Homo sapiens: one gene and its partners. The protein of the gene in region 1 purifies or fractionates together with the protein of each later gene. This does not show direct contact. Each region holds a gene or a part of one and is shown in the gene's direction. Other genes may lie near its edges. The genes, in order: SLC2A14, EPN1, SMAP2 and WDR73.

The links.
Region 2: the proteins of SLC2A14 (region 1) and EPN1 purify together in Homo sapiens (affinity purification with mass spectrometry; 2 studies listed by BioGRID and IntAct, with this or other methods). This does not show direct contact.
Region 3: the proteins of SLC2A14 (region 1) and SMAP2 purify together in Homo sapiens (affinity purification with mass spectrometry; 2 studies listed by BioGRID and IntAct, with this or other methods). This does not show direct contact.
Region 4: the proteins of SLC2A14 (region 1) and WDR73 purify together in Homo sapiens (affinity purification with mass spectrometry; 2 studies listed by BioGRID and IntAct, with this or other methods). This does not show direct contact.

Annotation. Positions count from the first base shown.
Region 1 is NC_000012.12:7,812,779-7,821,379, reverse strand, and holds part of SLC2A14 (solute carrier family 2, facilitated glucose transporter member 14), read left to right. Parts: intron 1-54; coding exon 55-159; intron 160-1,796; coding exon 1,797-1,898; intron 1,899-3,345; coding exon 3,346-3,549; intron 3,550-6,845; coding exon 6,846-7,064; 3' UTR 7,065-8,601. UniProt on the Homo sapiens protein: Hexose transporter that can mediate the transport of glucose and dehydroascorbate across the cell membrane.
Region 2 is NC_000019.10:55,705,198-55,710,606, forward strand, and holds the end of EPN1 (epsin-1), read left to right. Parts: 3' UTR 1-3,714; coding exon of another isoform or gene 3,715-3,847; 3' UTR 3,848-4,336; downstream 4,337-5,409. Other genes in the region: NLRP9 (NACHT, LRR and PYD domains-containing protein 9), read right to left, coding at 3,715-3,847. UniProt on the Homo sapiens protein: Binds to membranes enriched in phosphatidylinositol 4,5-bisphosphate (PtdIns(4,5)P2). Modifies membrane curvature and facilitates the formation of clathrin-coated invaginations. Regulates receptor-mediated endocytosis.
Region 3 is NC_000001.11:40,403,991-40,412,591, forward strand, and holds part of SMAP2 (stromal membrane-associated protein 2), read left to right. Parts: intron 1-2,745; coding exon 2,746-2,879; intron 2,880-4,662; coding exon 4,663-4,748; intron 4,749-5,766; coding exon 5,767-5,845; intron 5,846-8,601.
Region 4 is NC_000015.10:84,643,974-84,652,574, reverse strand, and holds part of WDR73 (integrator complex assembly factor WDR73), read left to right. Parts: intron 1-3,949; coding exon 3,950-4,038; intron 4,039-4,620; coding exon 4,621-4,685; intron 4,686-6,226; coding exon 6,227-6,391; intron 6,392-6,489; exon of another isoform or gene 6,490-6,602; intron 6,603-6,738; coding exon 6,739-7,104; intron 7,105-8,601. UniProt on the Homo sapiens protein: Component of a multiprotein complex required for the assembly of the RNA endonuclease module of the integrator complex. Associates with INTS9 and INTS11 in the cytoplasm, stabilizing the INTS9-INTS11 heterodimer and blocking the active site of INTS11.

The DNA of each region.
Region 1 (8,601 bases):
TGTGTAAGTGGTGTGCAGAATTTTATCAAAGCTGCATGTTTTCTTTTCTCCTAGGTGTTCTATTACTCAACAGGAATCTTCAAGGATGCAGGTGTTCAACAGCCCATCTATGCCACCATCAGCGCGGGTGTGGTTAATACTATCTTCACTTTACTTTCTGTAAGTTGGATGGTTTGATAATTTTGGGGGGAGAAATGAATCCTTGCTACAGATGTTCAAAGATGGATTGCATGGCTCCACCGTTATTTAGTTACACCTTTTTTGTTATTTATTTTTATTTTTTTAAATTTTTTGAGACAGAGTCTTGCTCTGTTGCCCAGGCTGGAGTGCAGTGGTGCAATCTCGGCTCACTGCAACCTCAGCCTCCTGGGTTCAAGTGATTCTCCTGCCTCAGCCTTCCGAAGTAGCTCGGATACAGGTGTGCGCCACCACGCCCAACTCATTTTTGTATTTTTAGTAGAGACGGGGTTTCGCCATGTTGGCCAGGCTGGTCTTGAACTCCTGACCTCTGGTGATCCACCTGCCTAGGCCTCCCAAAGTACTGGGATTACAGGTGTGAGCCAGCGTGCCCGGACTGTTGTTTAATTTTCCTTTGGAAAAAAGAGATACATTCAATGCTGAATGTAGTCTTCATTCTTCAAGCAAATATGGATGGATGGGAAAAGAGGAAGTATAGAAGGGACTATACAGTATGTTTTGAACTTGGAATTGGAGGAGAGGTGTTTGGAAAAACTTTCAAACTGTTATTCCTCTGTTTTTACACTAAAACAACAATAATAACAGAAGATTTCTGTGACCCCCAAAATATATAAGGATTTGTCCCCATCAAGTAAGCAATCAGTTCCGTAGTGGACACTATCTAGGTGTCCTGTGATTTAATTCTGACACTACCTGGAGATAGCATCAGAGCTCACAGGTTGGTGGCCGATTTCCCAAGACTGCCCCCAACTCCTGATGCCAGTCACAAGCTCCAGGTTGTTTTACCTGTGCTTCTGACTCACCAGCTGTAGATCAGGATTCCCACGACATCCTCTTTGGGTTTGATTAATTTGCTACAGTGGCTCACAGTACTCAGGAAAATTGTTTCCTAGTTTGATTTAAAGGATATTTTAAAGCACAGAAATACACAACCAGATGAAGAGATTCACAGGGCGAGGTCTGGAGGGATCCTGAGCATGGGAGCTTCTGTCTCTGTGGGGTTGGGGTGCACTCCTAGCACATAGATGAGTTGTTGCTGACCTTCCTGTCAGCTTCCACGGGTTCAGATATCTGGAAGCTCCCCATACCCTACCTTTTGGGCCTTTTATGCAGACTTAATTGGTTCTCCATGATTGAAGCATGGACAACTGTTCTGACCTGTGATTGGACAAAAAGGGAATGATCTGAACCCAGCTGGGCCTGTCTGCTTAGATGATTTGTTGGCCTCTCTGTAGCGTTTCTTCCTCTAGGGTGTGGGGCAGGACCCTCTCTGAAATGAGGGTTTTATGACCCACAGTCAGATTAGCGTCCTGCCAAGTGGGAGGGCAGGAGAAAGTCAGAGAAGAATTCTGTTATCTGAGGCCTGCTCCTGAGGCCTGAAGCATCCCAACATTATGACAAAAGACTCTACCAAGGGCTATGGGGATTTTGAGCCAGGACCTGTGAATGGCACACAATATGTATGTATATAAAATCATAAATCACAGGAGGGGTATCCATAACAAGTGTCCTGCTGTTGGTAAGGCAGATTTCAAGTAGCTCAGATGCTGTTTTCATGGAAAGGAAAACTGAAGTTTCATGTCATATTCTTCTTCCAGCTATTTCTGGTGGAAAGGGCAGGAAGAAGGACTCTGCATATGATAGGCCTTGGAGGGATGGCTTTTTGTTCCACGCTCATGACTGTTTCTTTGTTATTAAAGGTAAGTGCTCTTTGGGTGAAAAAAAAGGGAGGGGGAAAGAAGAGAGGTTACAGTTGACTTCTGTGACACAAGGGGTGGGTTGTTAAGGTTGCAGTTTGTCAATAAAGTCAGAGGAGAGAAGCAAGATGCCCAGAGTTTTTAAGAAACATGGGTCATCAGAGAACTGGAGGTAAACTGTTAGAATCTTTACATTTAGAGAACATTATTATGGTTTATAAAATAAGTTATCTAATTTAATTCTTTTGTTTGTTTGTTTGTTTGTTTGAGACGGAGTTTTGCTCTTGTTGCCCAGGCTGGAGTGCAGTGGTGCAATCTCAGCTCACCACAACCTCTACCTCCTGGGTTCAAGTGATTCTCCTGCATCAGCCTCCCGAGTAGCTGTGATTACAGGCATGCACCTCCACGCCCAGCTAATTTTTTATTTTTAGTAGAGACAGGGTTTCTCCATGTTGGTCAGACTGGTCTCGAACTCCCAACCTCAGGTGATCCACCTGCCTCAGCCTCCCAAAGTGCTGGGATTACAGGCATGAGCCACTGTGCCCTGCCTAATTTAATTCTTAAAATAATATCAAGGTAATCACACTTTATGGATGATGACGGGGTCTCAGTACAAAGTGACATATATGAGATCACATAGATGGGATTCAAAAATCCAAGCCTGGCTGGGTGCAGTGCTTCATTCCTGTCATCTTAACACTTTGGGAGGCCAAGGTGAGAGGATTGCTTGAGCCCAGAAGTTCAAGACCAGCCTAGGCAACATGGCAAGAAACTGTCTCTAAAAAAAAAAAAAGTATTTTTTTGTTTTTGTTTTTTGTTTTTTGAGACAGGGTCTTGCTGTGTCACCCAGTTGGGAGTGCAATGTCGCCATCTTGGCTCACTGCAATCTCTGCCTCCCAGGCTTCATTGATTCTCCTGCCTCAGCCTCCCTGGTAGCTGGGATTACAGGCATGCGCCACCACACCCAGCTAATTTTTGTGTTTTTTAGTAGAGACAGGGTTTCACCATGTTGGCCAGGCTGGTCTCCAACTCCTGACCTCAAATAATCCACTCACTTCACCCTCCCAAAGTGCTGGGACTATAGGCGTGAGCCACAGTGCCCAGCCAAAAAAACAACGAAAACCTTTTGTTTAATTAGCCAGGTGTGGTGGCACATGCCTCAAGTCCCAGCTATTTGAGAGGCTGAGGTGGGAGGATTGCTTAAGCCCAGGAGGTCGATGATGCAGTGAGCTGTTATAGCACCACTGCACTCTAGCCTGGGCAACAGAGTAAGACCCCGTCTCAAAAAATAAATATAAAAATAAAAATAAATCCAAGCCTTTTGATTCCACAGCCACTCTTTGTATTGTACGTCAGGACAGGAGGAGCTTGCCATTAGTTGCCTCTGGGAACCTAGATCCTGGGTTACACTGTCTTTAAATTTAATCTTCTGTGTTCCTTCCTCTTACAGAATCACTATAATGGGATGAGCTTTGTCTGTATTGGGGCTATCTTGGTCTTTGTGGCCTGTTTTGAAATTGGACCAGGCCCCATTCCCTGGTTTATTGTGGCCGAACTCTTCAGCCAGGGCCCCCGCCCAGCTGCGATGGCAGTGGCCGGCTGCTCCAACTGGACCTCCAACTTCCTAGTCGGATTGCTCTTCCCCTCTGCTGCTGTAAGTAAACTCACCTTATCTATGTATCTATGTATCTATCTATGTATCTGTCTATCTATCTATCTATCTATCTATCTATATATATATATATTTTTGAGACTGAGTCTCGCCCTGGTGTGCAGTTGCCCGATCTCAGCTCACTGACAAGCGATTCTTCTGCCTCAGCCTCCTGAGTAGCTGGGACTACAGGCACCCGCCACCGTGCCCAGCTAATTTTTGTATGTTTAGTAGAGATGGGGTTTCCCCATGTTGGCCAGGATGGTCATGATCTCTTGACCTGGTAATCTGCCCGCCTTGGCCTCCCAAAGTGCTGGGATTACAGGCGTGAGCCACCATGCCCGGCCAACTCACCTTATCTTAAAACCAGCCTACGTAGGCTGACATATTGAAGATACACCTTAATAATACAGTAGTCAGGCTGGGCGAGGTGGCTCACTCCTGTAATCCCAGCACTTTGGGCGGCTGAGGCAGGCAGATCACCTGAGGTCGGGAGGTAGAGACCACTCTGACCAACATGGAGAAACCCTGTCTCTACTAAAAATGCAAAATTAGCCGGGCATGGTGGCGCATGCCTGTAATCCAAACTACTTGGGAGGCTGAGGCAGGAGAATCGCTTGAGCCCAGGAGGCAGAGGTTGCGGTGAGCTGAGATCGGGCCATTGCACTCCAGCCTGGGCAACAAGACAGAAACTCCGTCTCAAAAAATATATATAATAATAATAGTAATACAGTAGTCCCTCCTCATCTGCAGTTTCAGTTACCTGCAGTCTAAAAATATTAAATGGAAAATTCCAGAAATAAACAAATCATAAGTTTTAAATTGCACCCGGGAGCAGTGGCTCAAAGCCGGTAATCCTAGGACTTTGGGAGGTGGAGGTGGGCGGATCACTTGCAGTCAAGAGTTCGAGATTAGCCTGACCATCTGGTGAAACACCATCTCTGCTAAACATACAAAAATTAGCCAGGCGTGGTGGCACAAACCTGTAGTCCTAGCTACTCGGGAGGCTGAGGCAGGAGAATCGCTTGAAACCAGGAGGTGGAGTTCGTGGTGAGCCAAGATCTTGCCATGACACTCCAGCCTGGGTGACAGAGCTAGACTCCATCTCAAAAACAAAACAAAACAATTTACGAATAGAGACAGGGGCTTGCTATGTTGGCCAGGCTGGTCTCAAACTCCTGGGTTCAAGTGATCCTCCCACCTCAGCCTCCCAAAGTGCTGGGATTACAGGCAGGCACCATGGTGCCCAGTTTAAGAATATATCTTTTGTCCATAAAATTGTGAAGAAGAAAAAAGAAGATGGGTGAGATGGCTCACGCCTGTAATCCCAGCACTTTGGGAGGCTGAGGTGGGAGGATCATGAGGTCAGGAGTTCGAGACCAGCCTGGCCAATATCGAGAAACCCCGTCTCTACTAAAAATTCAAGAAATGGCCGGGCGCGGTGGCTCACGCCTGTAATCCCAGCACTTTGGGAGGCCGAGGCGGGTGGATCATGAGGTCAGGAGATCGAGACCATCCTGGCTAACAAGGTGAAACCCCGTCTCTACTAAAAATACAAAAAATTAGCCGGGAGCGGTGGCGGGCGCCTGTAGTCCCAGCTACTCGGGAGGCTGAGGCAGGAGAATGGCGTGAACCCGGGAAGCGGAGCTTGCAGTGAGCCGAGATTGCGCCACTGCAGTCCGCAGTCCGGCCTGGGCGACAGAGCGAGACTCCGTCTCAAAAAAAATAAAAAAAATAAAAAAAATAAAAAATAAAAATTCAAGAAATTAGCTGGGTGTGGTGGCAGGCGCCTGTAATCTCAGGTACTTGGGAGGCTGAGGCAGGAGAATTGCTTGAACATGGGAGGCAGAGGTTGCAGTGAGCCAAGCTTGCACCATTGCACTCAAGCCTGGGCAATAAGAGCAAAACTCCATCTCAAAAACAAAAACAAAAACAAAAAAACAAAAAAAAACAAAACTGGCCAGGCACGGTGGCTCACACCTGTAATCCCAGCACTTTGGGAGACCAAGGCGAGAGGATCACCTGAGGTTGGGAGTGCAAGACCAGCCTGACCAACATGGAAAATCCCCACCTCTACTAAAAATACAAAATTTGCCAGGTTTGGTGGTGCATACCTGTAATCCCAGCTACTCAGGAGGCTGAGGCAGGAGAATCGCTTGAACCTGGGAGGCGGAGGATGCTGTGAGCGGAGCTCATGCCATTGCACTCCAGCCTGGGCAACAAGAGCGAAACTCCGTCTCAAAAAAAACAAAACAAAACAAAACTGGATAACTGGGGACTACTGTAATTACTGACGCTATGAAAGATTAGACATCAAAGGCTATAAACCAGATTTTCAACAATACATAGAAAAAAAATGACGGCAGAAAAGATTGAAATGGGATGGCAAAACTGGGAACCATTCATTTTTTATTATTTGAGACGGAGTCTCACTTTGTTGCCCACGGTGGAATGCAGTGGCTCACTCTCGGCTCACTGCAACCTCTGCCTCCTGGGATCAAGTGGTTCTCTTGCCTCAGCCTCCTGAGTAGCTAGGATTACAGGCACGTGCCACCACTCCCAGCAATTTTTTTTTTTGTATTTTTAGTAGAGACGGGGTTTTGCCATGTTGGCCAGGCTGGTCTCAAACTCCTGGCCTCAAGGGATCCACCTGCCTCAGCCTCTAAAAGTGCTGGGATTACAGGCATGAGCCACCACACCCAGCTCAGCAACACAGATTTTAAAAATAATACTCAAGGCCAGGTGCAGTGGCTCACGCCTGTAATCCCAGCACTTTGGGAGGCCAAGGCAGGCAGATTACAAGGTCAGGAGTTTGAGACCAGCCTGGCCAATATGGTGAAACCCCATCTCTGCTAAAAATACAAAAATTAGCCAGGCGTGCTGGTGGGCACCTGTAGTCCCAGCTACTCAGGAGGCTGAGACAGGAGAATCGCTTGAACCCAAGAGGAGGAGGTTGCAGTGAGCCGAGATCCTGCCATTGCGCTCCAGCCTGGGTGACAGAGTGAGACTCCATCTCCAAATAATAATAATAATAATAATACTCAAAAGTCCAAAAATACTCAGTAGACATTTGGAAGCATCTAACTTTAATGAAAAAAAATGACAGAAAGAAAAATACAGAGAAATATAGTAAGTTAGCAATAGAATCATAAGTAAATCTCTGAAGAAACCTTTATGTTTTCATTAAATATGGAAGGGTTATAGCTTGAAGCCTATTGGAAATATGAATGTGAAGGAAATTGTATTTGTCAATGACCAGATTTTTATATCAACCTTCCTTTTTTCTGTCCTTTCACTAGTACTATTTAGGAGCCTACGTTTTTATTATCTTCACCGGCTTCCTCATTACCTTCTTGGCCTTTACCTTCTTCAAAGTCCCTGAGACCCGTGGCAGGACTTTTGAGGATATCACACGGGCCTTTGAAGGGCAGGCACACGGTGCAGATAGATCTGGGAAGGACGGCGTCATGGGGATGAACAGCATCGAGCCTGCTAAGGAGACCACCACCAATGTCTAAGTCATGCCTCCTTCCACCTCCCTCCCGGCATGGGAAAGCCACCTCTCCCTCAACAAGGGAGAGACTTTATCAGGATGAACCCAGGACTGCTTCTGAATGCTGCTACTTGATTTCTTTCTCATCCCACGCACTCCATGAGCACCCCAAGGCTGCAGTTTGTTGGATCTTCAATGGCTTTTTAAATTTTATTTCCTGGACATCCTCTTCTGCTTAGGAGAGACCGAGTGAACCTACCTTCATTTCAGGAGGGATTGGCCGCTTGGCACATGACAACTTTGCCAGCTTTTCCTCCCTTGGGTTCTGATATTGCCGCACTAGAGGATATAGGAGAGGAAAAGTAAGGTGCAGTTGCCCCAACCTCAGACTTACCAGGAAGCAGATACATATGAGTGTGGAAGCCGGAGGGTGTTTATGTAAGAGCACCTTCCTCACTTCCATACAGCTCTACGCGGCAAATTAACTTGAGTTTTATTTATCTTATCCTCTGGTTTAATTACATAAATATTTATTTTTTAAGTGTAATTTTGCCAAATAATAAAAACAGAAGGAAATTGAGATTAGAGGGAGGTGTTTAAAGAGAGGTTATAGAGTAAAAGATTTGATGCTGGAGAGGTTAAGGTGCAATAAGAATTCAGGGAGAAATGTTGTTCATTATTGGAGGGTAAATGATGTGGTGCCTGAGGTCTGTACATTACCTCTTAACAATTTCTGTCCTTCAGATGGAAACTCTTTGATTTCTCAGAAAAGTTGTATGCCTATTTAATAAAGCTACTCATTTCCTTTGGAACTTTATCTTTAAGATAATAGTTTACATGTAGTAGTACTTGAAATCTAGGATTATTAACTAATATGGGCATTGTAGTTAATGGCGGTTGATGGGTTCTAATTTTGGATGGAGTCCAGGGAAGAGAAAGTGATTTCTAGAAAGCCTGTTCCCCTCACTGGACGAAATAACTCCTTGTAGTAGTCTCATTACTTTTGAAGTAATCCCGCCACCTATCTAGTGGGAGAGCCATCCAAATGAGAAACCTAAAATAATTGGTTCTTGGTAGAGATTCATTATTTCTCCACTTTGTTCTTTAGGAGATTTTAGGTGTTGATTTTCTGTTTTATTTTAACTCATACCTTTAAAGGAATTCCCCAAAGAATGTTTACAGCAAACTTGGAATTTGTAACCTCAGCTCTGGGAGAGGATTTTTTTCTGAGCGATTATTATCTAAAGTGTGTTGTTGCTTTAGGCTCACGGCACGCTTGCGTATGTCTGTTACCATGTCACTGTGGTCCTATGCCGAATGCCCTCAGGGGACTTGAATCTTTCCAATAAACCAGGTTTAGACAGTATGAGTCAATGTGCAGTGCAGCCCACACTTGAGAGGATGAATGTATGTGCACTGTCACTTTGCTCTGGGTGGAAGTATGTTATTGTTGACTTATTTTCTCTGTGTTTGTTCCTACAGCCCCTTTTTCATATGTTGCTCAGTCTCCCTTTCCCTTCTTGGTGCTTACACATCTCAGACCCTTTAGCCAAACCCTTGCC
Region 2 (5,409 bases), on another chromosome or scaffold:
GAAGGAACTTAGCATAGATACCGATAGCTGCTGACTGCAGGGAGATGGGGAGATATGTTTTGTAAACCTGTCCAGGCAACTTTTTTGCCTACGGAAACACACAAAAACGAAAACAAACCAATGAAAAAAACCTCTCAGAACGATACAGAATCCAGAGCCACTACAACACATTTCATGAAGTGGCGTGAGCCTGTAATTCCAGCAGTTTGGGAGGCCGGGGCGAATGGATGACTTGAGGTCAGGAGTTCGAGACCAGCCTGGCCAACATGACAAAATCACCATCTCTACTAAAAATACAAAAATTAGTCATGCATAGTGGCATGCACCTGTAGTCCCAGCTACTCGGGATGCTGAGATGGGAGAATCGTTTGAGCCCGGGAGGTGGAGGTTGCAGTGAGCCGAGATCGCACCATTGCACTCCAGCATGGACAACAGAGCAAGACCCTTTCTTAGAAAAAAGAAAAGTATCCCCGAACATTATCAGAGTCAAGTTAATAAAGGCCAAAGGTAGAGAAAATCTTGAAAGTATCGAGAAAATGACATGTCAATCATAAGGTCAGGTTCTTCAACAGTCATACTGACATTGTGGCTGGAATATTTGTTGTTGTGGGATATATATATATATATATATTTAGAGTGTTGTGGGATATATATATATATTTAGAGACAAGGTCTTGCTCTATCACTAAAGCTGCATTGCAGTGTGTGATCATAGCTCACCATGGGATTCTTGATTTTCAGTGAGTATAAAGTGTAAGACAAAATAAGTCTTAGTTCAGGTATGCTGGATGGGAAGCCAGAGGTCTGCATAGCAGTTACAAAGAAGGCCTTATTATCTGGAAGAAAAGGGACCATAGAATGTCCATTGGTTGGGGAACAACCCAGCTTTAGTTTTTCCAGATTCTCTGCATGTGCAGGTTTATGAGACTGGAGAACTTTGATTTCTTCTTCCTCCTCCTCCTCTCTTTTCTTCTTCCTCTTCCTCCTTTTTCTCCTCCTTTCTTCCTTTATTTTTCTTTCTTCCTTTCCTCCTCTTTCTTCTCCTTTTTCCTCCTCTTTTCTTCCTTTCTTCTCTTTTTCTTCTTCTTTTTTTTTTTTTTTTAAAAGACCGTGTTTCGCTCTGTCACCCAGGCTGGAATGCAGTGGCGTACTGTTTTAGAAAAGTGAAAGAGGGCCGGGCGTGGTGGCTCATGTCTGAAATCCTAGCACTTTGGGAGGCTGAGGCGGGTGGATCACCTGAGGTTGGGAGTTCGAGACCAGCCTGGCCGACATGGCAAAACCCTGTCTCTACTAAAAATACAAAAATTAGCCGGGCATGATGGCAGATGCCTGTAATCTCAGCTCCTCAGTAGGCTAAGGCGGGAGAATCGCTTGAACCCAGAGGCAGAGGCTGCAGTGAGCCAAGATTGCAGCATTGCAGGAAAGAGAGAAAAAGGAGGGAAGGGGAAGGAAAAGGAAAGAAAGAAAAGAGGGGAAGGGAAGGGAGAGATTTAAAAAACAATAGTAAAGAGAGATTTAAAAAACAATAGTAAAGAGAGATTAAAAAAAAAAAGTAAATGGGCCAGGTGCGATGGCTTGTGCCTGTAATCCCAGCAGTTTGAGAGGCTGAAGTGGGAGGATCACTTGAAGCCAGGAGTACCAGACCAGCCTGGGAAACATAGTGAGACCCCGTCTATACTAAAAAATATTTAAATGGGCTGAGCGCGGTGGCTCAGGCCTGTAATCCCAGCACTTTGGGAGGCCGAGGCAGGCGGATTACCTCAGGTCAGGAGTTTGAGACCAGCCTGACCAACATGGCAAAACCCCATCTCTACTAAAAATACCAAAACAAAAACTAGCAGGGCATGGTGGCGCATGCCTGAAATCCCAGCTACTCAGGTGGCTGAGACAGGAGAATCACTTGAACCCAGGAGACGGAGGCTGCAGTGAGCCGAGATTGTGCCACTGCACTCCAGCCTGGGCGAGCAACAGAGTGAGGCTGTCTCTCAAAAAAAAAAAAAAAGGAACGGTAGTGTGCACCTGTGGTCCCAGCTACACAGGAGGCTGAGGCAGGAGCATCACTTGAACCCAGGAGTTCAAGGCTGCAGTGAGCTATGATGGCACCACTGCCCTCCAGACTGAGCCAAAAAGCAGACCCTGACTCTAAAACAAAAGAAAGAACAAATAACAAATGAAAATAAATACCCAAAAACCAGTCAAATGTGAAACTGGTGTCAGGGGTATGTTCTCCATGTTGAGCCCCTTCTGTGGAATATGACAGTGTCTCTATTTCGGGTAAAGGAAAGACCAAAATAACTTTCCAAGATGAAAAGCTAAGAGTGCTGATCTCATCACAGACATAGCCAGCTCTTCAGTTCAGACCACCTGGAAACCCTCCCCATGTCTTTTCAGAACAATGTCCTAAGAACCATAGGGGAAGTGGCCATAAAAACCATCTTTCCTTTGCAGACTGGGGTGGGGACTCTGGCCAATGCCATTCTGTTCTTCCATAATATCTTTCCCATCTTGACTGAGCATCAAATGAGGCCCACACACAAGATTCTCACCCACATGGCCGTGGCAAACTCCTTGGTTCTTCTTTCCACTGGAATCCCCCACACAATGGTGTCTTTTGTCCTATGGAAACCCTTGTCCAGTCTTGAGTGTAAACTCGTGTTTACAGGTCTTAAAGTCCTGACCTGGTGATCCGCCCGCGTGGACCTCCCAAAGTGCTGGAATTACAGGCGTGAGCCACCACTCCTGGCCTATGCCAGCATTCTTTAAAGTTGTGGGAAAAGGCCAAAAGCAAATAGAAAATTGGGCAAAAAAGTTCATAATTGCTTAAACATATGGAAAACCTGGAAGTAAAATTAAGCAAGTAAGTGCGAGCACTCTACATTGAAGATTATAGAAAATTCAGCCTCCCAAATATCCAAAGAATCCAGGAGTGTGCCAAGAGATCCAAGAGTAGGTCCACAATTTCTCATTCTCAGGAGAATCTGAGATTATATTTCAATCTAATGATAACTGATTATATAATCCAATTTCTGCATCATCTTGCTTTTATGTTTTGTAATAAAAATTTTAGACCAGGCCAATAAGGCATCAGCAATTTACCGTAGGGAACTAGGGAATGTTTAATTATGACAATGAAGTGTTTAATATTGTGTTTTGAAATATAAACAGTGTAGATATATTTGAATAATACTGAATTTTTAGAAAAATCTATTGGGGTGTCATATATAAAAGGATAAGTAGAGATTTGGAAATGCTTTTTTATTGGACAAGAAAATTGATCAAATCGAAATCTGGACAAACTAGAAAGTCTGGATGCTAGCAATACAATCTATAGACACATTCTAGCATCACTTCTGTGTCAGAAGTATCCGGATTGTGGTGCCTACAAATGCATGCTCCTACACACCAAGACATCCATTAAGAAAATAAAGCCATGCTTTCCAGAGCGTTTAGCACTTGTTTAACGTACTTGTGCTTCTAAATATCACAAGGCAGGATGGGATTTCTAAAGACAAGGGGATATAGGACCGAGGCAAAGACAATCAGCATGTACACTGAATCACACTCCATAATCATATTGCTAGAACACTTAGGGAGTACCTCTGAAATCACAGCCCTGCTGCCATGATGTGCAATTACAGGATAGAGGTGCCAGGTGAAGGTCCCACTGTGGCCAAGGAAAGCCTTTGTGAGACGACTACTTCAGGGTGTTCCCCATCAGAGGAGCACACCCCTGATCTTGTATTCCTCGTCAATCCAAGGTCCATGTGAAATGGTCAGATGGGGAATTTTTTCTTCCACAGACATCAGGATCTTCTGAGTTTCTTCATCAAAGCCAGATTTGTGCAGCCTGGGAAAATAGAAATAAAGTTTTTTTTTTTGTTTTTCATTTTTACACAGTATTGCCTCTCTACATTCTGATGTCTACCTCTCCTCTCCTCTTTATTCTTTCCTAGAAATCACTGGGAGAATTGTACTGAATTTGAAAAACAAGCATGAATCTTTCCTATAGGATAGGAAGCCTCTGATTTATACCATAAAGTGAAATTTCATATACAGGATGTATCAATTAAGATTTAATTCAAAAAAGATGAATTTAAGTTAAAAAGAAAAACACAGGATAACTTCCATTCATCTGATGTTCATATGCCCTGGCACATCTATTGCTTCTTATAATGTGCTTGCTTAAAAAAAAAAAACATGAGCTTTTCTCAGAGACACTAATATAATGAATTCATGTACCCATCACCAACTTCTACAATTACCAATATTCAGCCTCTTCCATTTACAACCTGCCCATTTTCTAAGAAATAATTAAAGCACATGCTACACCCATAAATATGTCAAACGTTCTTGTCTGTTTTCGCTATTTTCAGTTCCTTTCGTGTCATTGTCCCCTGAACCCACCTCAACAAAGCTGGTTTTTGTAGTCACCAATAACATCAATTTGTTAAATACATTCTATCCTACTTACCCAGTTAGCATTGAATACAGTTAATTACACTTTCTTGTTTATTTTTTCCCTTAGCTTACTGGACACGACTTCCTCCTGGCTTCTACTCCCTCAACAGCTATCGTTCTTGCTTTATACGTTGAATCTCTGTCTCTTTATAACTTCTAAATGTTCTCAGCATCAGGAAAATATAAAAAATAAGTTCACAAATAATTGGTAAGACTGGAACATAGGCCTTCCTGAAAGAATATAACTAACATTTGCAATTCTCTTCTCCCCTCTCCCGTGTCCTTCCTTCTTGCCAGGTGTTCATAGTTATATGCCTTTTTATCTCCAATTATAAAAAGAAGTTGAGGAGGATTAGCAGGTCACAAAATTTCGTAGACATTTAGACACAGGAGAAGTAGGAGTTTATCTTAAATCTTCAGAGGTAGGGAAGATGGCTAAGTTTCCTTTCAGCTACAGCGACACTATGAGAAAGTTACCCAGAAATAACTGCTCTGAATGCTTGCTACTGTGGAGATGACATGTTTTGGGTGTGGGGATGGTGGTTGAAGAGAAGGGAGACATTATTATTATTATTTTATAATGCAGGCCTTAAGTACCTGGCCTGTCCCTATGGGGACTGGGTCTCTGTCTCCTCTCTGAATTCATTTTTCCCTTTCTCTGCTATACAGCTCCCCGGGACTCCCTTCTGGCCCTGCAGGGTACAAGGCCTGGCCCCATCTCAGGGCCTTTATGTTTTGCTGTGCCCCCTTCACTTGGGGTCCTCCCTAGACATTCGTGATATGGTTTGAATCTGTGTCCCCACCCAAATCTCATATTTAATTGTAATCCCCAATGTTGGAGGTGGGGCCTGGTGGGAGGTGACTGGATCATGGGGGTGGATCCTTCGTGAATGGTTGAGCACCATCCCTTTGGTGCTGTTCTCATGATAGAGTTCTCACGAGATCTGGTTG
Region 3 (8,601 bases), on another chromosome or scaffold:
GGGAGGCTGAGGTGGGAGAATCGCTTGAGGCGAGGAGTTTGAGGTTACAGTGAACCATGATCTTGCCTCTGCATTCCAGCCTGGGCAACAGAGTGAGAGACCCTGTCTGTAAAGAATAAAATGAAATAAAAGTAACTACACCATTTCCCCATGTTTTCAGCCATATAAGTAACATTTGTCTCTTTTATTTTTCTTTTCTCTAATTTCAGAATATTTTATGGAACATGTAGTTATTCACTAATAAATCTAGTGGCTCAAAACTAAAAGAGATTGAGTATCTGGGATATAACTATCACTATATTCACTGGGAAAAGGTTTCACAAGGGATGTCAGGTAGGGATTTGGTGGGGAGAAGAGGCTGTTCTTTGGCTTTTCATGAAAATACAGTTGCCTGTATTTCTGTACTGAGGCCTTGTCAGTGGCTTCAGAGTCACCCCAAGGCTCCAAGTCTTAGCCTTGCATTCCTCAGAAGCAAAAAGACTTTAAGTACGCTGGAGTGGGAGCTGTGACAGTGGCTTAGATGATTGGGAATTGCCTTTTCCCATCTTAAGGCCAGGAAGCAAACAGTGTAACATTTCACAGCTGACTTTTAATTTTTAATGAATGTGTTTGGCTTCTGACTTTGTTAGCAAACAAATACATCTTAACTTGTCTTATGAGTTCTAGACTCTGGAATCTAGAGCAAAGGAAAAGTGCTTTAAGAAACATGAAATATTAACTTGGTGCCATTTTAAATCTTATATAACTTAGATCTTATTGGAGTTCCTTTATGAAAACTGTAACCTAAAATGGATATACCACATGTTAAGAAACCCCATTTACATCAGTTTAGGGTTTTCATTTTGTGTTTGACGTGACACTCTCCCACATGAAACAAGTGTGCGAATCATTTTTGTGTTTATTAGATACATGGCGGACCAACTATGTAAATCCATCTAGGAATGTGAAGGGACTAAATATCTTTTTAGAAGGTAAATCGGAGCTTGTGATAGCAATAAGGTATTGGGATAAAATTTCAGGCGGAGAGCACCACCTGGTGGTAATAAGGAGAATGTGAGCCTTCTGTTGCAGTATTTGCGATAGTAAATAAGTGATATCTTTGTCAAAAAATTACATTCTTATTTGTAATAATCATGAATTCAAATTTCTAAAACTAATTTTCTGCCACACAATTCTAGCATTCCTTCATTAAAACTGCTGTCAAAACCTTCAGGCTGGCCAGGCACAATGGCTCACACCTGTAATCCCAGCACTTCGGGAGGCCAAAGTGGGAGAATTGTTTGAGGACAGGAGTTCAAGACCAGCCTGGGCAACATAGTGAGACCTAGTCTCTACAGTAAATAAAAATATTAGCCAGGCAGGGTGGCACACGCCTATAGTCCCAGCTACTCCAGAGGCTGAGGCAGGAGGATCGCTTGAGCCCAGGAAGACGAGGCTGCAGTGAGCTATGATCGTGCCACAGCACTCCCTGTCCGGGTGACAGCGAGACTGCCTCTAAAAATAAAAATTAAAAAATTAAAAACCTGCTAGCTAACCAAATAATTGTCTGTGTCCTAAAGAACTGAAGTCTTGTGCTCGTTGTCGTTCCAAGCGTAGGCCCTGTTTATCTCTGTAGAAAATCAGTGTCTTTTCACCTCTTTATTGCATCCTCTAATTTTTATATCACACTTATTTTATGTGGTAAATTTCTGCCAAGTGGGATAATGGAGAAGGAAGTATTTCTGATTTTTTAGTAAGTTTTTGGCAGGTTTCATATAAGTCATTTTTCTTTCCTGGGTAAAAATTATGAAGAGGAGTATGATAATTTTTCAGAGTGATTATTAGGATGAGTAACACTGGCAGGGGATGGGAGATTCTGTAACAGTTTTGAATTAAAATTCATATTTGAGATTTCTTTTTTGTTGCTATAAGCATCTTTATTATTTGGCAATCTTGAAACAAGATACTTCAGTAGTTGAGTAAAGTAGGAACATCAGCCTAAGGGGAAAAGATCCTATTAAGTTAATGCGAATGCATATTTTATAGGCCTGGGGTTGGGGGGAAGATAAACACAGTTTCAATTACAGGTTGAGCCATGGACAAGCATGCCATATCTATCTTTTTTCCTGGTAGGAAAACCGAATACAGGCCACCACTAAAAAGTGGTGAATACAGGCCCATCACCACTAAAACGTCTCTTGGGAGAGGACTGTTTATGTAAGGTGCTCGGCCAAATAGAATATGACATGGCTTTGCACTCCTGGGATTTTTCTTAATATAAGTAACAGTCTTATAACATCTGCGTTTCAACACTCATATTAGCAGACACTGTAAAAAAATTGTACCATGCACAAATGCCCACTTATTATATAATTCTTTTTATATTAAATGCCCAGAATTGGCAATCCATAGAGATAAAAAGTAGATTCATAGTTGCCAGGGGCTGGGAGGAAGAGCTGGGAGAAAATGGGTAGTGCCTGCTAATGGGTTTGTGATTTCTTTTGGACTAATGAAAATGTTCTGGAATTAGATAGTAGTAATCATTGCACAACTGTGTGAATATATTAAAAACCACTGTATTGTACACTTAAATTTAAACTAAAGAAAAGCTGACACATGGAGGAATGAGCAGAGTCAATAAACAGGTGGTTATGGTAAAAATTATTTCACTTATGTTCTAGCAGAAATGTCTGATAATCTAATATTGTAGTTTAGGCCTTGAATGTTGTAATTTGTACTTTATTGCCCTGTTCCTGACTTTCACAGGGCCGCGATGGGCCTCTTGGAACATTGGTGTGTTCATCTGCATTCGATGTGCTGGAATCCACAGGAATCTGGGGGTGCACATATCCAGGGTAAAGTCAGTTAACCTCGACCAGTGGACTCAAGAACAGATTCAGGTACTTAGCCCAAGAGTGAGTCAGCTGCTTCCATATATCTATGTAAAAGGAATTCCAGATGAATTTCAGTCAAACCTGGCACAAAGGTGAAGATAAAGGAAAATTTAGTTGTTAAACACTTAACATCAGATTCTTGTACCCTAACAGAAATTTTTATTCTTTCTATTTAAGATACAAGTTATTCTACCTATATTTTACCTCCTTAAAAACAGAAATAGTCTACGGTCTAGGATTCCATGGGCCCACGAAAGTATTAAGAGGGATCTTTGGGTGATTTTCTAAGACTCTTAGCATTTGCAGGTCTAAAATTTATAGTTTCAAATATTCACTTTTGGTCGGGCACGGTGGCTCATGCCTGTAATCCCAGCACTTTGTAAGGCCGAGGTGGGTGGATCTCTTGAGTCTAGGAGTTCAAGACCAGCCTGGGCAACAGAGTGAGACACCTGTCTCTACAAAATAAAGAATTAAAAAATTAGCTGGGCCTGGTGGTACGTACCTGTAATCCCAGCAGTTTGGGAAGCTGAGGTGGGAGGATTGCTTGAGCCCAGAAGTTGAAGCTGCGGTTAGTCATGATCATGCCATTGCACTCTAGCCTGAGCAATAGAGTGAGACCCTGTCTCAAAAAAATAAATAAATAAAAATTCACTTTTTAAAAAAACCTCCAAATCATAGACTTATGGGAAAATTTTATTACTAAAATGCATACATGAATCTTTTTTTTAAGACAGAGAAAATATTTTAATGGTACATAATATTAAAATGTATCCATTTTTGTAAACTCATCATTTCTGATATTTTTAGACACATACAAATGTGGAATTAGATAACATTTAAAATTTCAAAAATTTTAAATAAATTTAAACATAATTAACCTTAAAAGTATATTAAATAGGACAATGTGTATATTAGATTTATTGTTATCATCTTTAAAAAGCTGTAACAGCTGGAATGCATACATGAATCTTGCATGCTGTTAGCTTGGTGGGCTTGGAGTGAGACTCCTAAGTTAATGAGTCTGGCTGGCCTAAGAGCTGTACCTTGATATAGCTTCATTATTTTTTATTCTCTTCCTACATTGAAACGCTTTAATTTCAATTTTTTCTTTCTTGGGAGTAAAAGGGAAGCCCCCCGCCCCCCAAATCCAGTTGCTAAAGTTGGTAATGGAAATCAGAGGTTACGCTTAACCAGAAAATGGCTTTAGAAATTGCTTTAGATTGTATTTATAGATGTATTAAAGGTCTAAAAAGGTGAGTTACATTTTTCAGTTACACTTCACTCTGTTTTATGAAGGAAATTATATGCCATGGAGATAGTCGGGAATTTGGAGATTTAAAAAGCTCTTGGGATTTATCCCTCACAAGTGTTAAGGAGTCTACTTAAAAGCCTAATGGGAAACACATTTATTGGAATTGATTAATAGTATAAACTCAGAATGATAACACTGATCATTGCCTGCCAAGTAGACATTTTAATTGGTAGCTGTGTATCTAAGAGTTTCAAATGAGATCTTGATTTATTACTGAATTGAATGTATCTTGGTACACAAATATTTCAGTAAAAGGAACCTATGGAGTGGGGGAAAGACAGCTTGGGGCAAATGATTGGGAAATCCTAGTAAGGTAGAGGGAATCATGAATTGGAAATCAGAATACACAAGTTTAAATGTTGGTTCTGACACTCTCTAGGTTGGTTCTTCAATTGTACAGTAGTGGAATTGGGTGAGAAGTTTTTCAGTTCTTTCTTGATCTGACGTTCCATGTTTCTACATTCTCTTTGGTCACAGTGCATGCAAGAGATGGGAAATGGAAAGGCAAACCGACTTTATGAAGCCTATCTTCCTGAGACCTTTCGGCGACCTCAGATAGACCCGTATCTTTTCTGGAGCAACTTAGAAGGCTGAGTGGTATTTTGATGCTTGGGGAGAGTCAGACAAGACTCCAGTCCTGTAATGTGACTGGGTCATCTCTATGTGGATTAGTCAGTGTCCTTGCTTGTCCTCTGTCCTGCAATCAAGGTGCACAAAAAGCACATGTATTTGTGAATGTCGGAATTGTCATACGGTGTCACTTGAAGAAGACTCACTCTGGAATTAAGACTGCAGTGATTTCACTGTGAATTCTTCTATAAAGTTACATCTCCACTAGTTTATTTTGGATCTCTGAAACTATTGTTTGATTAAAAAGAGTAGTTCATTGTGCTCTGTTAACCCTGGCAGTCAGCAAAATTGCCATTCATTTTTATCATCTTTTTATGTCTTGGGTGAAAGAATTAACTGTTGTTTACCAGTTTGTCAATAACCAATAACTTTCTTCCACCATCTGTTCAACAGAGCATAGCACCTAGGACACAAAACCAAATCCCTTAAAGGCAGTGCTTCTCAAAATGTAGTTTGTAGATCATCTTGTTAAGGTTCTTTTTTTTTTAATGGGTTCAGGTGGAACCTGTTAAATGCAGATTTGGGGCCTTGCAGAAGACCCACTGGTCAGAATTTGGCAGTGGGGCACAAGAGTTTATGTTTTTAAGGGGCACTTACGTGCCTTTGTTTGAGGCCTATTGACCTAAGTGCTTTAAAATAGACATTTGACTGCTTTACCTATATTCTAGAACAGCCACATACAGCCTCTAATGTCAGTTTGAAGGTTAATTCCACTTGCTGCTATCATCACGCTGAAGGGAAAGCATAGGAAGTAATGATTCCCTGCTTTAACTGTGAAAGAGGCATTTTAAGGTTTTGGTCAGAGAAATTGCATATGAAGAGGCAGGAGCCATGTGGGGAAACCAGGCAAGAGGGAAGGAGGAGAACAATGCTCCGTGGAACACAATTGATCTTTTATCTTCTTGCTGTTTGAGAGGCTTGTTGGATTCATCCTTAATAAGCTTTTTGCAGAGCTGTTGAAGGATTTATTCGAGACAAATATGAGAAGAAGAAATACATGGACCGAAGTCTGGACATCAATGCCTTTAGGGTTGGTTATACATCTTTCAAGTTTTGTCCACAATAAGTAATGTGCTTATTAAATCAGGCCAGAGAACACGTTGAAGAACTGCTACCAAAACACTCCAAAACCATCTTTTAAAAAATGCAAAAGTAGACCAGGTGTGGTGGCTCATCCCCTAATCCCATCACTTTGGGAGGCTGAGGTGGGAGGATCACTTGAACCTAGAAGTTTAAGACCAGCCTGGGCAACAAAGAAAGACCCCCATCTCTACAAAAAATTTAAAAATTAGCCAGGCATGGTGGTATACATGCCTGTAATAACCAGCTACTTGGGAGGCTGAGGTCGGAGGATTACGTGAGCCAGGGAGGTTGAGGCTGCAGTGAGCTGTGATTGCACCACTTCATTCCAGTCTAGGCAACGGAGTTTGACCCTGTCTCAATATAAATTTTTAAGCAAAAGTAAAAAGTGCCAGTTACTGAGTCAAGACCATGAGGCAGAAACAAACTTCTGCCTATCGGTGAATTCTTGCCTTAATCTGTAGTTAGAAGGTGTTAGTGATGATTCCCAGTTTTGAATTATTTCTTGGGATGGACATGTTGCATATACTAGATCAAATAAAACAGTATATGTGTATATGTACTACAGCTATATCTATCTACATAGATATATACACACATATATACTTTTTTCCTGTAAATGAAATCAACAAAAGTAGGTGTAATTAAATCACCAGAGTTTCCTTCAGTTTGACCAATGTATATTTCCAGCATTACCTGCTGATAACCAGTGTGTTGGACTGATTGCCAATGGGACCCTTGTTTCTGAGAAGGGTTTCAGAGGGAGACTGGCTACCAGTTGCCAAGAACACATTCCATCCTAGGCATGTTTAGAATCTGCAATACAGTATATGATAACTAGGACAAATATAACACACAGGGGGACAGACAGCATGATTTCTGAAAGAGGAAAATATGCCTAACTAATGACAGCTAATGGAGAACCAATAGATATGACTATTTATACCTTTAAATAACCTTTGACAAGATTCTACAGAAAATTCTCTTAGGAATAATTGGCTATTTATCTAGTCACAGAAGTATTGAGAGTAAGGGATTCTCCACTTCCAGCGCAGGTCCTACCTATCTATCATCTATTCTAGTTATGTAATAATGATATAATAGCCAGTGAAATCACTGTTTGCACTGAGCTCCAAGCCCTTCTGGGTAATTAAAAGTTAAGCTAATTGGAATCCACTTCAGGCTGATCTTATGAAGCTGTGTGAAAGGGGCATTAACTGGTAGGTGAATTTCAACACAGGCAAGTAAGTGTAATACATATAGTTAGGTAAAAATGATTCCTTCTCAACTGTGTATGAAGGACTCTTACCTTGCAGTTATCCAGAAAAGGGACTTGTCAATATCATATCTGTGCCAAGAAAGAACCCAGTGTGCAGCTACAGCTTGCATGGCATCATCAAAAACAGTTTAGAACCCAAGCATACACATTTCGTTTTATTTGTAGAAAACTGTGGTCTGTCTGCCCAGCTCTGTTCATTGTGCCTAAAGATATGAACTCAGATGAGGTCAGAAAAGGGTATCTGAGATAATTCAGATGACGAAGGAGTAGAGTTGCTATTTGTACACAGCTATTGTGGAAACAGCAGCTCTGCCCTCAGGGTATTCATGATTTCATTGCTGGTATACTGTACCCATGAAAGCAAGCCCGGTTACCGGATGTTTCTCTTAGGAAGGAAATAACCTCCCATTTACCAAAAAGCTATTTCAGAATTTGTTATTTAATGTACTTAGATTTTTTTCATATTTTGTGAAGATTTTTATGCCAATAATTAGTATTTGCTAAGTGAAGACGTTTAATATCAAATGAAAAGAAACTGGCTTTGTTAAAAACTATTCTTTTTATAATGGACAGATAAAACATTTTTAACTTAAATGAAATGTCGTGTTAAAGACATACACTTTGTATGAGAAAAACAGCTGCATGTATTGATTATAAAATTATTTTAGAGAAAATGAAAATTAAAGTGAAATATCCATACATACTCTCACTATCTTTGCTAATAATTATCTTCTTGGTGTGTTCCCCTTTTTTTCTAAATAGTTTCTTTTTGGAGGCATAATTATAATACAGTTATGTAGACTTCTCGTGCCTTCATTCCACTTAACATATATTTCTGTGTTGCTTATATAGTGTTTATAATTTTTAATTGTTGCATCATCTTTCAGTGAGTAGCTAAATCACTGAAAGTAATAATTTATTTACCATTTCCCTTCTGTGGCATAAATGTTATTTAATTTTTTTTAGCATAAATAATTCTGGGGTGAACTTGGTGCATTTAACCTTTTTCATATTTTGGACTATTTTCGTAAGATACATTACAAGATATGGTATCATCTAGGTCAAAGGATTTCAACATTTGTCTCTTCCTAGTTTTGCCAATATACTTTCCAGAATTTGTACCATTTTACTCTCTCTTCTCAGCATTGTATAAGAGTACTGGTTTCACTTCATCCCTCCCACCATTATAGAAAGATCTTTCTCCCTGCATAAAGTGCATTTTAAATTGCATTTTTTATCACTGGCAAGACCAAACATGTTTTTCATATGTATGCTATACTCTGTATTCTTAAGGTTACTTTGTGGTTTTGTTTTACATTTAGATGTTTATTTGATTTTAAAACTTAATTTTTGTTCTTCTAATCTGTAAACTTGAAATTAAGGTTTATTTTCTGACTGTTAAAAAAATGAATATTGAGAGGACCTAT
Region 4 (8,601 bases), on another chromosome or scaffold:
GGGAGGCACATATGCACAGAGATAAATGCTGTAGAATGTCTCGTGGTTTACAGAGGGCTATCAGAGGAGGAGGTCAGTTATACTTTATCAGAAATAGATTTAGGGAGCGATTAAGGATATAGAGGGCGGTCGAAATGCGTAGAGTGATTAAAGTCACCTAGTGAATGTGTGGTATATAAGGAGTGAGGAGAATATAGTGAGGACGGAACCTCAGGGAACACATTTAAGGGATGAGTACAGGAAGATGCACCCCCCCTCCCCAAAGAATACTAAGAAAGAACAGCCTCTGAGGTAAGAGGAATCTCAGAAAAGGTCAATGTTTCTGAAGCCAAGAGAAGAGAACTTCTCAAGAAAAAAAGAGTTAGTAGCTGTCTAGAGTTCCAATAAAATCATTGAGAGAAGAATTGAAGGCCAGGTGCAGTGGCTTACGCCTGTAATCCCAGCACTTTGGGAGGCCGAGTTGGGCGGATCATGAGGTCAGGAGTTCGGGACCATCCTGACCAACATGGTGAAACCCCGTCTCTACTAAAAATACAAAAATTAGCCAGGCATGGTGGCGCACACCTGTAATCCCAGCTACTCAGGAGGCTGAGGCAGGAGAATTGCTTGAACCCGGGAGGCGGAGGTTGTAGTGAGCTGAGATCGTGCCACTGCACTCCAGCCTGGGCAACAGCAAGACTGCATCTCAAAAAAAAAAATCATTCAGATGAGGAATTGAGTTCATTCATAAGACTGGCAATTGGGAAACTCTTGGTGACCTCTGCTACAGGATTTTTGCTGGTGGTGGTCAGGCCCAAAGACTAAAAATGAAGAGGAAGCAGAGTCACGAAATGTAGGGAGGGAAGAAGCTAAAGCAGCAACTAGTCGGAAACACAGATCTGAGGGAAGGTTTCCTAAACACAGAGGCTTGAGCAGAGTTAGAAGCTATGGGAAAGTAACCCTTGAAGAGGGAGAGGGTGAAAATGAGGGAATATCACAGGGAACACGCTCCTGCTTCCAGGAATAGAAGGTGAGGATAGATCAGGAGTCCAGGGGATGGTATTAGTCATCAGAGGACAAGGGAGGAGTGAGGCATGCAGGCAGATGACCTTGAAGGGCCATGTGGGGGCAGGAATTTGAGTGTTTGCTCCTGAATTCCTTTTTGTTTTGAGACAAGGGCTTGCTCTGTCACCCAGGCTGGAGTGCAGTGGCGCGATCCCTGGCTCACTACAGTCTAAACCTCCCAGGCTCAAGTGATCCTCCCGCCTCAGCCTCCCAAGTAGCTGGGACTACAGGCATGTGCCACCATGCTTGGCTAATTGTTAAATTTTTTTGTAGAGATGAGGTTTCACTGTGTTGGCCAGGCTGGTCTCGAACGCTTGGCTTCAAGTGATCCGCCTGCTTCGGCCTCCCAAAGTGCTGGGATTACTGGCATGAGCCATCACTCCTGGCCCCAAACTTCTTAAAAAAATTTTTTTTTTTTTTTGAGGTCTCACTCTGTCACCTAGGCTGGAGTGCAGTGGCGCGATCTCAGCTCACTGCAACCTCTGCCTCCTGGGCTCAAGCCATCCTCCCACTTCAGCATCCCGAGTAGTTGGGACCACAGGCATGTGCCACCACACCTGGTTAATTTTTGTATTTTTTGGTAGGGACGGGGTCTTGCCAAGCTGTTCTCAAACTCCTGAGCTCAAGCAATCCTCCTGCCTCCCAAAGTGCTGGGATTCCAGGTGTGAACCACCGCACTTGGCCTTTTTTATTTTGTTTTGTTTTAAATTATTTAATGAAATAGGAAACAATCCGAGTGCGGTGACTCATGCCTGTAATCCCAGCACCTTGGGAGCGGGAGACCAACGTGGGCAGATCACTAGAGGCCAGAAGTTCAAGACCAGCCTGGCCAACATGGTGAAACCCCATCTCTACTAAAAATAAAACAAATTTGGCCAGGCGCGTGGCTCACACCTGTAATCCCAGCACTTTGGGAGGCTGAGGTGGGCGGATCACAAGGTCAGGAGTTCGAGACCAGTCTGGCCAATATGGTGAAACCCCATCTCTACTAATAATACAAAAATTAGCCGGGTGTGGTGGCATGCGCCTGTAGTACCAGCTACTCAGGAGGCTGAGGCAGAAGAATTGCTTGAACCTGGGAGGTGGAGCTTGCAGTGAGCCAACATCAAGCCACTGCATCCAGCCTGGGTGACAGAGTGAGACTCCGTCTCAAAAAAAAGAAAAAGAAAAAGAAAATTAGCCGGGTGTGGTGGTATATGCCTTTAATCCCAGCTACTCAGGGGAGGCTGAGGCACCAGAGAATCCCTTAAACCCAGGAGGCAGAGGTTGCAGTGACCTGAGATGGCACCACTGCACTTCCAGCCTAGGTAACAGCATGACACTCCGTCTCACAAAAATAAGTAAATAAATTTATCTTAGGGCCTCACCATGTTATGGAGTTGAGTCTAATTGTTTAGAAGAGAAGAGGCTAAGAGGCTAGACAAGGACATAGAAAAACATTGTTCAGCCTGGGAGAGGCTAGATCCCATGCAGATGTGGCCCAGTTTTTATCAAAGTAGCCTGAGGACCACCCTACCAGGGCCATTAGGAGTGCTGGCTAAAATGCATATTCCTAGCATACTTCCCAAACATACTGAATTATAATCTCAAGAGGGAAAGCTTAGGAAAAATGCCAAGTTTGTAGACTGACATGGTGACTCACACCTGTAATCCCAGCACTTTTTGAAGCTGAGGCGGTGGACTGCTTGAGCCTAGGAGTTCAAGTCCAGCCTGGACAACATGGCAAGCCCATCTCTTCACAAAATTTAAAAAGTTAAAAAAGACCAGGTGTGGTGGCTTATGTCTGTAATCCCAGCACTTTGGGAGGCTGAGGCAGGCGGATCACCTGAGGTTGGGAGTTCGAGACCAGCCTGGGCAACATGGCAAAACCCTGTCTCTACTAAAAATACAAAAATTAACTGGGTGTGGTGGTGCACACCTGTAGTCCCAGCTACTCAGGAGGCTGAGGCAGGAGAATAGCTTAAACTGGGGAGACAGAGGTTGCAGTGAGCCAAGATCACGCCACTGCCCTCCAGCCTGGGCTACAGAGTGAGACTCTGTCTCAAAAAAAAGTTAAAAAAAAAAAAAAAGCCAAATTTGTACTCATAAAACCCAGAGGCTACAGAAGCTATAGGGTAGCACCTAGTGTTCTTCATCTTCCCCATCTCCAGTCAGGCTTGAGTCAGGGGTTCACCCAGACTGAGCCTAGCTGTGAGAACTGATTTAACCTCCCCGCTCACCACCAGCTTTGCCTTGTTTCTTCTATGGCCACCTCCTTTTCCCTTGCCTCTGGTTCCTTACATGGAGATAGTAGAGCCTAGTGGCTAACAGTGTGGACTTGGGTTAGACAGACTTTGGTTCAAATTCACAACTTAATACTTGTATGACCTTATATAAGTGGCTGAAGCTCCTTGTGCCTTAGTTGTGTCATTTGTAGAATAGGGATAATTATAGTACCTATATCATAGGAGGTTGTAAGAATTAAATGTGATAAAGCCCTAAACACTGCGCCTGACACAGTGAATACTGATAAGTTGTAATTGTTAATTTTTATCGTTAGAGGAACCCACCTGACTTCCAGCGGGAGAATGGAGGGAGAAATGGGGATGTGTTCATTGCTCTCTTTGATGAAGCTGTTAAGCTTCTCTGGCTTCTCTAGGAAGGCCTGGAGTATAATGCTTGTGCTGTAGTAAAAGGGGCTAGTGAAAGGCTAGGAGAAGGGTTTTGGATGTGCAAAGGAAAAAGGAAGCTGTACGTGTAGGCAGCTGAGACCAACATTGCCAAATACCAGGACACCAACGCCCTTTCACCAGCTGAGTGGCTTCCATGGCCTCCTGCCAGGCTAGGACCTGACTCCTCACTTAGAGTTCCTCTGAAATGTTCATTTGAAGAGCTGGCTCTGATTGGCTACTCCTTTGTATTTTAGGGCTTATTCCCAGAAAGAGATTTCAAAGTGCGCCATGGAGGATTTTCAGACAGGTCTATCTTTGATCTAAAGCATGTGCCACATACCAGGTATGGTCAATTTTGTGATCCAGCCATCCACACAGGATGGGATGGGATGGCTGCAAATGCCTGGGGGTATTCTGCCTCCTCATCTCCATTCCCACCCCCTCAGCACACAGGCACATGTGAGTGCACAAGTGTGTGCACACAGATACACACAGATTTAGAATACAAAGAAACCACTGCTGTGGCTTCATAGCCCCCCAGAGCCCTTGGACTAATGTAAGTAACAGTTCTACCGGAGTTGCTCCAGGGAATAGATACGGGACAGAAAGATGCTCTTCTATTGCTCTTGGGTGATAATTGCTCAGTTGGGAGAGGCCAAGAGTCTCTGGGTCAGGTTGTGTTTGGCCCCATACTTGTGTCCTCTGTAGGTGACCATCATGACACATGGAAGCTTGGGCTCAGTCTCCCTAAAGTTGATTGAGCCTGCTCCTTATCTGTGAAATGAGGGTGGTTGGCCTTGATGATCTTGCAGTAAGATGTCCTGATATGGGAAGTGGAGTCCCAAGCTAAGTGTGCTGGAAAGGGGAAGGGACCTGTGTGGATAAGCTCCCCATGGTCTGGACTGATTTTGTCTTTTCTGAATAGATTGCTGGTTACCAGTGGCCTTCCAGGTTGTTATCTGCAGGTGTGGCAGGTTGCAGAGGACAGTGGTGAGTGAATTTGACTTGATGGGGTTTGGGGTTCTAGGAAAGTGTGACTCATACACCCCTGTCCCCTAATCTGAGCCAGTTAAGAAGGAGACTCAGGCTGGGGACAGTCTCATGCCTGTAATTGTAGCACTTTGGGAGGCTGAGCTGGGTGGATCACTTGAATTCAGGAGTTGAAGACCACCTTGTACAACATGGTGAAACCTGTCTCTATTAAAAATACAAAAAATTAGCCGGGCATGGTGGTAGGCACCTGTAATCCCTGCTACTGGGGAGACTGAGGCAGGAGAATTGCTTGAACCTGGGAGGCGGAGGTTACAGTGAGCCGAGATCATGCCACTGCACTCCAGCCTGGGCAACAAGAGCAAAACTCCGTCTCCAAAAAAAAAAGTAGTAGTAGACTCAGAGCCAGGTGGGAATTAATCTACTTTAATGCAGACAAGGTGAATTAGCAACCATAGCATGGCATCCAAGCCCCAAATGGAGCTTCCTGTAACCTGCTCCTGGAATTGAGTTCATCCAGAGAACTACTCTCCCTAGGCAGGGGCAGTGGCAACAGCAGAGCTTAGGCTGCTCAGGTGAGCTCACCTCTTTGGCAGCATTAAGCATATATTAAGAGAAGCCTCAGATGTAGAATACAGAGAGGAGAACCTCCCTGCTAACCAAGCAGGTGGAGACAACCAAATAAAAACTAAAACTTGGCTGGGCGCAGTGGCTCATGCCTGTAATCCCAGCACTTTGGGAGGCCAAGGTAGGTGGGTCACCTGACCAGGAGTTTGAGCCCAGCCCGAGCAACATGGCGAAACCCCGTCTCTACTAAAAATACAAAAAAATTAGCTGGGCATGAGGGTGCACATCTGTAATTCCAGCTACTCAGGAGGCTGAGGCAGAAGAATTTCTTGAACCTGAGAGGCGGAGGCTGCAGTGAGCTGAGATTGTGCCACTGGACTCCAGCCTGGGCAACAGAGTGAGACTCTGTCTCAAAAAAACAAAAGAACCAAAACAAAACTTGACTCAAAGCCAAGGATGTTCCATTCAGTGTAAAAAAGATGTGGACTTTCTTGTCCACCTTACAAGACAATGACATCTGTAATGTGACCTGTACTTGCTAGGCTTTAGCAAGTCACTCGAGGTCATGGAACATGTTTTTGAAGAAATAATATCAGTTCATGAATTCTGTACCTGTTTCTTGTCGCTGAAGGGGTAAGTGACATCAGCAGCATGTTCATTCCTTTTCTTGTCTTCTACCTGTTCTCCACAAAAGTATAAAAAGCCAGAATTGCTTTTTGGGTTTTGAGATGGCATTGTCTTCCATTTGCAAAAAACAGTTTATAAGACAAATAATAAAGAAATTGAAATGTTTCTGATGGTTTCAAAAATGTAAACATAAGCCAGAGTAGTTATGTCTCAACATCATCTCTTGCCAGCCGGCAGCTCCTTTTCTTCCTTGATCTTCTAAATGTACAGGGGAAGACAGCTGGCAGCCTGTCATGTTTCAAACCTTCATTAAAGTTCTGGATTTTGGCCTCTTCGTTTTCCCCTAGATGTCATTAAAGCTGTCAGCACCATTGCTGTGCATGAGAAAGAGGAGAGTCTCTGGCCTAGGGTGGCCGTCTTCTCCACATTGGCACCCGGAGTCCTCCATGGGGCGAGGCTCCGAAGTCTGCAGGTCGTTGATCTGGAGTCCCGGAAGACCACGTACACCTCAGGTACCGTGGTACTTTGTCCCTTGCTTGCTGCTCCAGCCGGCATCACCCCCCAGCCCAACTCAGCCACTATAAAAACTGAGTTCAACTCTCTGTGCCAGGTGTTGGGGATACACAGTGAATAAGAGGTAAGCCCTGGCCTCTAAGGGCTCCTATGCTGGGGCAGGATTAGGCAGTCCCAGGGACCAGCACCCAACCAGCTGAGCAGACAATGGTGAGATGAGTGGGAAGGGAGATGTGATTTATTCTGCCTGGGACTGGTGGGAAGGGACCTGTGACCAGCCAGCCCTGCCAAATTGCCAGACCCATCTGCCTCCAGCCGCTTGTCTCCTTTGCTGTCGGTCTTCCAGATGTCAGTGACAGTGAGGAGCTGAGTAGCCTGCAGGTCCTAGATGCAGACACCTTTGCCTTCTGCTGTGCTTCAGGCCGGCTGGGGCTTGTTGACACCCGGCAGAAGTGGGCACCGTTGGAGAATCGCAGCCCTGGCCCTGGGTCTGGTGGAGAGAGATGGTGTGCTGAAGTTGGGAGCTGGGGCCAGGGCCCTGGGCCCAGCATTGCCAGCCTTGGCTCAGATGGGCGTCTTTGTCTTCTTGACCCCCGGGATCTCTGCCATCCTGTGAGCTCAGTCCAGTGCCCAGTATCCGTACCTAGCCCTGACCCAGAGCTGCTGCGAGTGACTTGGGCCCCAGGCCTGAAGAATTGCTTGGCCATCTCAGGTACTGCCGAGCAGGATTTCGTCTTGTTATCTGATCTCTTTCTTCCAGGAGACTGTTGGGTGCTCAGGAAGGAGCCTCCAGCACCATGATAAACCTGGCTCCAGGAGTTAAAGTTGCTCACAGAGAAATTCGAACTCTCCAGGTTCTTCAGTGGCAGGCCTTTTCCTACCCTGGCTACTAAACTTCCACACATTGGCAGCAGGCCTTTCCTAGCCTAGCAGGAATTCAGGTCTCAGGTTGGTGGAGGGGCCTGCAGACAGTAAGACACTGGGACAGACATCGGGCTGGGTCAGAAAGAAAAGGGGACAGTGGCTAACACGGTGAAACCCCGTCCCTACTAAAAATACAAAAAATTAGCCAGGCATGGTGGCAGGCGCCTGTAGTCCCAGCTACTTAGGAGGCTGAGGCAGAAGAATGGCGTGAACCTGGGAGGCGGAGCTTGCAGTGAGCTGAGATTGCACCACTGCACTCCAGCCTGGGCAACAGAGCGAGACTGTCTCAAAAAGAAAAAAAAAGAAAAAAAAAAAAAAAGCAGCAGGGACAGCACCTCAAGGGTACTTCTCAGCCTACTTGCCTTTTGAAATGTAGCAAGTTGGCCGGGTGCGGTGGCTCACACCTATAATCCCAGCACTTTGGGAGGTCGAGGCGGGTGGATCACAAGGTCAGGAGATCGAGACCATCGTGGCCAACATGGTGAAACCCCGTCTCTATGAAAATAAAAAAAATTAGCCGGGTGTTTTGGTGCACGCCTGTAGTCCCACCTACTTGGGAGGCTGAGGCAGGGGAATCGCTTGAACCCGGGAGTCAGAGGTTGCAGTGAGCTGAGATGACGCCACTGCACTCCAGACTGGCGACAGAGCAAGACTCTGTCTCAAAAAAAAAAAAAAAAAAAAAAGTAGCAAGCCAGCTAGGTCAGCAGGCCCCTGGTTCTGGTCTGGTGGTAGCTAGTTGCTTGCGGCACTTAATGTGGGTATCTAAAAGCCAACAGGAAGGATCCGTCGAGGCAGGTGGGGGTTGAAAAAAATCATTAAGAGAGCAAGAAAGGATGATTGGAAATGCCAGGATCCAGAAAGAACAGAAGAGCCAAGCTCAGGTAGAGGGGCTGGCTCTTCAGTACCAGGAAGATGGCAGGATGGAATGAGTGTGTGTGCAGCTAGATCGTGCAGGGACGTGAAGGTATTTCTCTCCAAAGGCTTCTGTTTCCCCCATCGAGTAGGAGACAAGGCCATCTGCTGAAAGGGACCCAGAGGTAGGGGACTGGACTCTGGGGCAACTTGAAAAGGTTTGAAGAAGTCTCTTAAGCCTCAGTTTCCTGGGTAAAATAACAGTATCTGTGTCATACAGTTCTGAGGATTAAAAGAGCTAATACTTGTCCAGAATTAGCCTTCGAGCCTCACGCATAACAGGTGCACAACGGATGCTCATGGTTACATGCCCCACGGAGTCATCAGCTGCCAACACTGAGGGCAGATGCTACTTGCCCGTGGTTAGCCTTTT